2 linked regions of the Homo sapiens genome follow. The protein of the gene in region 2 interacts with the protein of the main gene of each other region in a pairwise test. Each region holds a gene or a part of one and is shown on either strand. Other genes may lie near its edges. The genes, in order: SOX5 and TTC1.

Region 1 (3,824 bases), on a different chromosome or scaffold from region 2:
GAGTCACAGATCTGTACTTCAGTAATTATGACCCTGGCTAAGTTAGTCCATCTATTTGAATCTCAATTTTCTCATCTATGAAAATAGATAGAAATGCTGTCTCTTTTATAAGATTGAGGTGAAAGGTAGGAAAAAGACATCAGTATGTCAAGGTTTCAGCACAGTGTCTGGCACATAGTAGTTACCCACTCCATGTTTATTAATATTATAATTTTAATTATAATTAAATGTTTAATCAAAGGAATTTTTAATTACTACCATTCCTGTAAGCTTAAAATACTTAAACATTTTGGGGAGGATGAGACTACATGATATATGTTGGGAACTTTTGTAGTAAAAAACATCTCCCACATAAAAATATTCAATAACTAGATAATTAGTCTCAGATTCAAAATGCATGATAACATATCATGTAACTTTTCTGTTCACATGTGAATTATATCATGATCTAATGTAGAAATGAGAAATGTATCCATTAAATTATCTATGAGCTTTAAGGGACATAATACAAAAGTTTGGCTAGAATGCAAACCAGAAAAAAAAAAATACTGCCCAGTGTTTATATCTTTAGGTACAAAACCACCACCACCTCTGTTCTTGTGGGATCTCACTAATCAAAAACAGGTTTATGTATTTCTGGGTTTTGGCTAACATCTCAACTTTAGATTTTCTTGTTCTCAGCCATATCACTTTCTGGAATGCTTAGAAGCTGTGCAAATTGGAATCCTAACCTCCTTTCTTCATAGGATCTCGCTGGAAAGCTATGACAAACCTAGAGAAACAGCCATATTATGAGGAGCAAGCCCGTCTCAGCAAGCAGCACCTGGAGAAGTACCCTGACTATAAGTACAAGCCCAGGCCAAAGCGCACCTGCCTGGTGGATGGCAAAAAGCTGCGCATTGGTGAATACAAGGCAATCATGCGCAACAGGCGGCAGGAAATGCGGCAGTACTTCAATGTTGGGTATGTACCTTTTAGTCATTTTTCTCATGGGGCAAACTTCCTGTTATACTTAATGGGATGTGAAACATATTTGTTCAGTTGCAAAAAGACATTTTGAAAAAGAATCTGAGCTCACAGTATTTTCAGAGACAAATAGTCTCCCACATGATCTTGAAAAATATGTCCATATGAATCCACTGCAAGTTCCTAGCTCTACCATGAGATTTGTTAACAACTGGTTTAAAAACAAGATATCTACAAGCAAATGATTTTGAAGTTTTCTATTAAAAACTTAGAAGTATAACTGGTTCTTTTCTTCATTGGTTTGCATTACTTCCTAAGCTTCACCATGATAAATTCTAAAACTAACAACTTTGTTGAGACAATACAAAATAAAAATCATTTCAAAAGCAAAAATACTTATTTCTAAATATAGAGAGGTTAGTGAGCTATCAAGGTACATGTGTGGCCTTTGTGGATCACACAAGCTAGGGATTATATTTAGGGTGTAACAAGGTTGGGAACAGGAGGTTTCATTCTGAATTGAGAACGCAGCTCCGAGATGTTTTACAATGCTCCCGTGGCAAGGTTGTTGACAGTGCTGTAGATGGGCTACAGAAATGCATTGCTTCTATAGAATTCTCTCAAAAACCCAAAATAAAGTTGTTCATATTTGAAACAGAAGTTAGTTTCTAAGAGCTTCTTAGAATAATAAATATTGTTCTAAATATGGGCAGAGAAGGACTCATAAAACCTTTCCAAATCTGCTCTGTCCCCTCCAGTTCCTTGGAAGAGGCTGCATGCTCTGTCCAGTGGTCTGTGATTCATATGCAAGCACATGACTCCTCACAAAGCTAAACACAATGCCCAACAGTTCTTGGGCAAATAGTAAACATACGAATGAATAAAAACAAGCATAAATGCACATCATCTATTCATCCTTTCCAATAGGACCACCTACATTATTTATAGGACCAGATGCAAAAATGAGGAGACAGGGTCTCTTGTTAAAAAGTTATTAAGAATTTCAAGTCTGTGGCAGCACAACTTTAAACCAAGTATGGGACCTTAGTGCAGTTGCACAGTTTGTACATCCATGAAGCTGCTCCTGCTTCCTACCACTACGAGGCCAGAACTGTTTCAGAGACTCAGTGGACAGTGTGAATTTGTTCAGTTCTGGTGTGTTCTGGGCAGTAAAGTTTTATTTTGAGAACTCTAATGCTTTAGGATTTTCCCATTAAAATTTAATTATCTTTAGATTTAATTCTAGGGAAAAATACTATTTCTGCATGTTATAATGAAAGAAAAATGAACTTGGAATCAAGGACCTGGGTTCTTCTGCTTCATCTTTCTGCACCTCAGTTTTTTAATAAAACAGTAGTAACAAACAGGATTAAGAATAAGATGGACAACACATGTCAATATCTTGTACTCTATAAAGCACTACCTAAACATAAGGTATTAGGCCTGGTGCGGTGGCTCACGCCTGTAATCCCAACACTTTGGGAGGCCGAGGCAGGTGGATCACCTGAGGTCAGGAGTTCAAGACCAGCCTGGCCAACATGGTGAAACCCCGTCTGTACTAAAAATACAAAAGCTAGCCAGGTGTGGTGGCAGGCGCCTGTATTCCCAGCTACTTGGGGGGCTGAGGCAGGAGAATCGCTTGAACCCTGGAGGGGGAGGTTGCAGTGAGGCAAGATCACGCCATTGCACTGCAGCCTAGGCAACAGGAGCGAAACTACGTCATCTCAAAAAAAAAAAAAAAAAAAGAAAAGAAAAGAAAAACAAGGTATTAAAGTTCAAGTAGGATGGAGTTTGAAAAATGTTAGGCAATTAGATAAAATTAGTACCTTAGAATTGGACATTGCTGAGCAAATTAATTATGTAGTAAAGTCCACATCTAACTATTCACTTACCCACGATGTCTTTTTGGAAATTCCTTTCTTGACAGGCAACAAGCACAGATCCCCATTGCCACTGCTGGTGTTGTGTACCCTGGAGCCATCGCCATGGCTGGGATGCCCTCCCCTCACCTGCCCTCGGAGCACTCAAGCGTGTCTAGCAGCCCAGAGCCTGGGATGCCTGTTATCCAGAGCACTTACGGTGTGAAAGGAGAGGAGCCACATATCAAAGAAGAGATACAGGCCGAGGACATCAATGGAGAAATTTATGATGAGTACGACGAGGAAGAGGATGATCCAGATGTAGATTATGGGAGTGACAGTGAAAACCATATTGCAGGACAAGCCAACTGATAAGGGTCAAAAGATTGTTGTGACCTTAGGACTTAAAGAAGCCCTAACTGGTTCATCCTTACCAGTGGCCAAGCACATTAACTTTCTCATACACTGACTGTTACTTTAACTGTTAGTCTTAAATAGTTGGGACATCAGCTGACTAATAGACCTCAGCCTCAAAAGGCTTGGAAAGAAAAAACAAATACAACAAGCAAACAACAATATCAACAACAAGAGATTGAAATAAGCTATGGGTAAAATAATGCCAGTAATTCAGCTGCTACATCCAAGCACTGAAGTCTTACCCGTCAACTTTTTTTTTTTTTTAAATAAACTTTATGGCTGTTTGTTCTACAATGTTCTAGAAATTCTCACTCAGGTACACAGTGCCAACAAGTGGCTTGTGAATGTGTTTTGTTGTTTTGTGCTACAATTTTTAAAAAGAAAAAAGTTTTGTTTTGTTTTTTGGGGTTTCTGGGTTTTTTCCTTTTCTTTTTCTTTCCTTTCATTTTTTTTCTTTGTAATGCACCTGACAGAAAAAAAAGAAAAATGAATTTCTCTTTACTTCTCTCCACCTTCTCCATCTCTCTACTTTAAAGATGGAAGTCTGTGCATGAGGGGAAAGAGGGAAAAAGAGCCTGTTTT
Region 2 (3,824 bases):
CCTTTTAAACCTTACATTCCTTGGTTATTATGGCTGGGAGGCTAATTATCCCAGAGAAAAGGACCAAACAAACAAACAAACAAACAAAAACAACCAACCCCCACTCCAGCTGCTGACCACTTTCCTCAAGTGATCGTCTTGATGCTATCACGATCATCTTCTGTGATCAGCAAGGACTGTGCCACTAGGACTAATGGCCACCCTGGGTCTCTTGTTCTAAAGATTATAAATGATGGGCTAGAAAGGGCAAAGCAAATAATTGTTCTACCCACTAATAATTCCTATCAGGATTTTTTCCCTCAAGGAGTACATAGCTCTTCTTTCTAATGAAAAGGAAATTACAGAGATGGAAGAAAAAACAAGTTAAAGAATACTGAACACATCTAAATAAAAACCCATTTTGTACTACTCAAGGTGATCCACAGATTCAATGTAATCCCTGTCAAAACACCAATGACATTCTTCACAGAAATAGAAAAATCCTAAAATTTGTATGGAACCACAAAAGACTCTGAAAGCTAAAGTGATCCTGAATAAAAAGAACAAAAGCTACAGGCATAGGCATCACACTACCTGATTTTATAATTTTCTTTTTTTTTAAAGACAAGGTCTCACTCTGTCACCCAGGCTTGAGTGCAGTGGCATCATTGTGGCTCACTGAAGTCTCGATCTCCTGGGCTCAAGTGATCCTCCCACAGCAGCCTCCTAAGTAGCTGGGACTACAGGTGCACACCAGCACACCTGGCTAATTTTTTTAGTGACAGGATTTTGCCATGTTGCCCAGGCTGGTCTTGAACTCGGGCTCAGCCTCCCAAATTGCTGGGATTACAGGTGTGAGCCACCACACCCAGCCCACACTACCCAATTTAAAAAATTTTTAACTGCTTATTCTCCATAGAAGCCATCATTTTAACAGGAACTAGCATAAAGATGATGCAGTCCACTGTGAAAAGCTTGCTCAGAACTTCTAAGTGATATTAATTTGCATTCAGAATGTCTAGCCTCTAGGGAATCTCACAGAACATGAACCAAAGTTACCTCATCAGCAACAAGGAGGAAGGAATACCAGAAAAGCTCTTGTGGGGGCTGAAATTCCATGTAAAGAGTGATTTCTCTCTTCTAGGTTATCTATTGTGGGGTAACACCTAGAGCAGTATCTTATTCATGATTTTTATACTCATTAAGGGAAAAAAGGAATCTAGCCATTCAAACTACACATGTGTAACAACACATATTATTTACAAAGCAACTTAAGTTGGTTAAGTCTAATGGCAGGTGAATTCATTTTAGAAGCAACCGAGGGAATGAATTCAATTTGAATTTTTTCAAATGAAGAGAATGACATAAGAAAAACCCAAAGCCTTGGAGACAGAAAATTCTGGTGCATTAGAATTTATAAAGACAAGGACAAATGGAAGTTTTAATTCCATCTGGAACTAACAATAGGCAGTAAGATTCAGTTTGCACCAGTCCCTTTACTGGACTGGCTTTAAAAAAATGGACTAAGAGACCAATGCCTTCCAGATCCACTATGGCCATTCACAAGGTCATCTTTTTTAGCAAGAAATTCAAATACTAAATGCAAACAGTTTTTTTTTTTTTTTTTTTTTTTTTTGCTAAAATAGAGCATCATTGTTAGTAAAAATAGGTGAGAAAATGCTCTTTTCCCTCTTCTTTGAGACAGGGTCATGCTCTGTTGCCCAGTCTGGAGTGTGGTGGCACCATCATAGCTCACTGCAGCCTCTAACCCTTGGGCTCAAGTGATCCTCCCATGTAGCTGGGACTATGGGCAGGCACATGCCACCATGCCTGACTAATTTTTTGTGGAGATGGGGTTTCACCATGTTGCCTAGGCTGGCCTTGAACTCCTGGGCTCAAGCAATCCTCCTACCTTGGCCTCCTAAAGTGCTGGGATTACAGGAGCCACCGTGCCTGGCCAAGTTTAATTAAATATGTAAATTAGGGGAAAAGCTCCCCCATCCCCCTCCCTTTTTTGGAAAATCTGGGGAAGGCTCCAGAGCTATCCTGAATCGGAAGCAGCCGTCTTTACAGTCTGAGTCTACCCGGCAGGGGCCAAAGTCTCTGGATAGTCTAGGTTAATGGCCTCCTCTCAATCAACTTGGCTATCAGAATGATCCTTTGGGAAATTTGTTCCCATTGTCTGGATGCTGATGTCTGAAGGCCATAAATGCCAGACAGGCTCAATTTATTTTAAATGATTTTTCCTTTAGGGCCACATGATTGCAGTTTATAAAATGTAATTCAAACAACAGATTTAGAAAATACTCAAAAAGGAAAATACATGGCAGATCTTCACCAGCGAAATATCAGACAGGTTACATGTGGAAAAGACTTAAGTCTGTGTTCAGGAACCCTCACTCCTCTTACTTAAGCAGATTGCTCGTGGGAGGTTCCAACTCTAAAATGCTTTGGCAAATATGAGAAATAACTAAACATGGATCAAATGAATCCATTTGCCCTACCCCTACCCCCAGTCTGATTTCTCTTTACTCCTAATTCCTGCCCTCTCGTGTGTTCTCAAACACTAAAGGGACTTTGAGTGCCATTTTCTAAATAAAAATTCTCATGATCTTGACTGCATCCTAATGAACCTCAAGGAATGATTATTCAATGAAGAAACTAAACTGTTTTTATGTAATTGTTATCTGAAATCGAGGTTGGTGGTATCCTAGGATTTTAAATCCCATTTAAGCATAATCCCAGGGAACTGAATTATGCTTAAATTCTTGCAGGCAAGAAAAATTTCCAAGAAAATCAAAAAGGAAATCTGGTTTCCAAAAAAAGCCAATACCCTCTCTAAGCCACGCTGCCCCTTCTGGGGTCAAAATAACTCAGAAGTCAGTAGCCTTGTGGTAGAGTCCGAAACTTTCTAACTCATGTGTTCTCCTCTAGTATTCGCTATGTCCCCACCCTAGGTTCCTAGCTGTTTATGATCAAGCAAAGTAAGAAGTAAGCTTACCTAACATCTCTTCTTTTAGTCTTTCATTACGTTCTTCAATTTGCTTAGGTAATCTCTGAGGAAAAGAGGAGAAACAAGGGTTGGTAAAAAAAAAAAAAAAACCAAAACCTTTCCCTTTATTTTGAATTTGAGAAACACAAGAATCCTAATGTGGAAATAAGATCAAGTTAAGTATGTCTATGATCCTATTAAATAAAAAAAAAAAACCCCAAGTATTTATGTTTGTGGTGCGCTACATAAAGACAAAAGTTCTGTTTGGGCCAGGTGCAGTGACTCCTGCCCATATTCCCAGCACTTTTGGAGGCCGAGTTGGGAGGATCGCTTGAGCTCAGGAGTTTGAGACCACCTTGGGCAACATGGCAAAATGCTGTCTCTACAAGAAATACAAAAATTAGCTGGGTGTGTTGGCATGTGTCTGTAGTCGCAGCTACTCAGGAGGCTGAGGTGGGAGGGTTGCTTGAATCTGGGAGGTTGAGGGTGCAGTATGCCATGACTGTGCCACTGCTCTCCAGCCTGGGAGTCAGAGACCCTTTCTCAAAAAAAAAAAAAAAAAAAAGTTTTGTTTGGCTCTGTTTCCAGTTCTTAATAGAAAGTCTACACTAAAGGAGGGCATCAATACAAATTTAACAAATAAATATATACAGAAAAAAGTTTGAAAGGATACATATCAGATGTTTACAGTGCTATATTTGTATTTTTAACTTTTTTTTAAATTCATTTGTATTTTTTGTTTTTTTAAGACAGAGTCTCACACTGTCGCCCAGACTGGAGTGCAGTGGCGCAATCTCAGCTCACTGCAACCTCCACCTCCTGGGTTCAAGCGATTCTCCTGCCTCAGCCTCTC

What was found.
Region 1: the proteins of TTC1 (region 2) and SOX5 interact in a two-hybrid assay, tested with the Homo sapiens proteins (one large-scale study listed by BioGRID and IntAct).

The regions. Positions count from the first base shown.
Region 1 is NC_000012.12:23,533,592-23,537,415, reverse strand, and holds part of SOX5 (transcription factor SOX-5), read left to right. Parts: intron 1-746; coding exon 747-963; intron 964-2,893; coding exon 2,894-3,197; 3' UTR 3,198-3,824.
Region 2 is NC_000005.10:160,050,340-160,054,163, reverse strand, and holds part of TTC1 (tetratricopeptide repeat protein 1), read right to left. Parts: intron 3,036-3,824; coding exon 2,981-3,035; intron 1-2,980.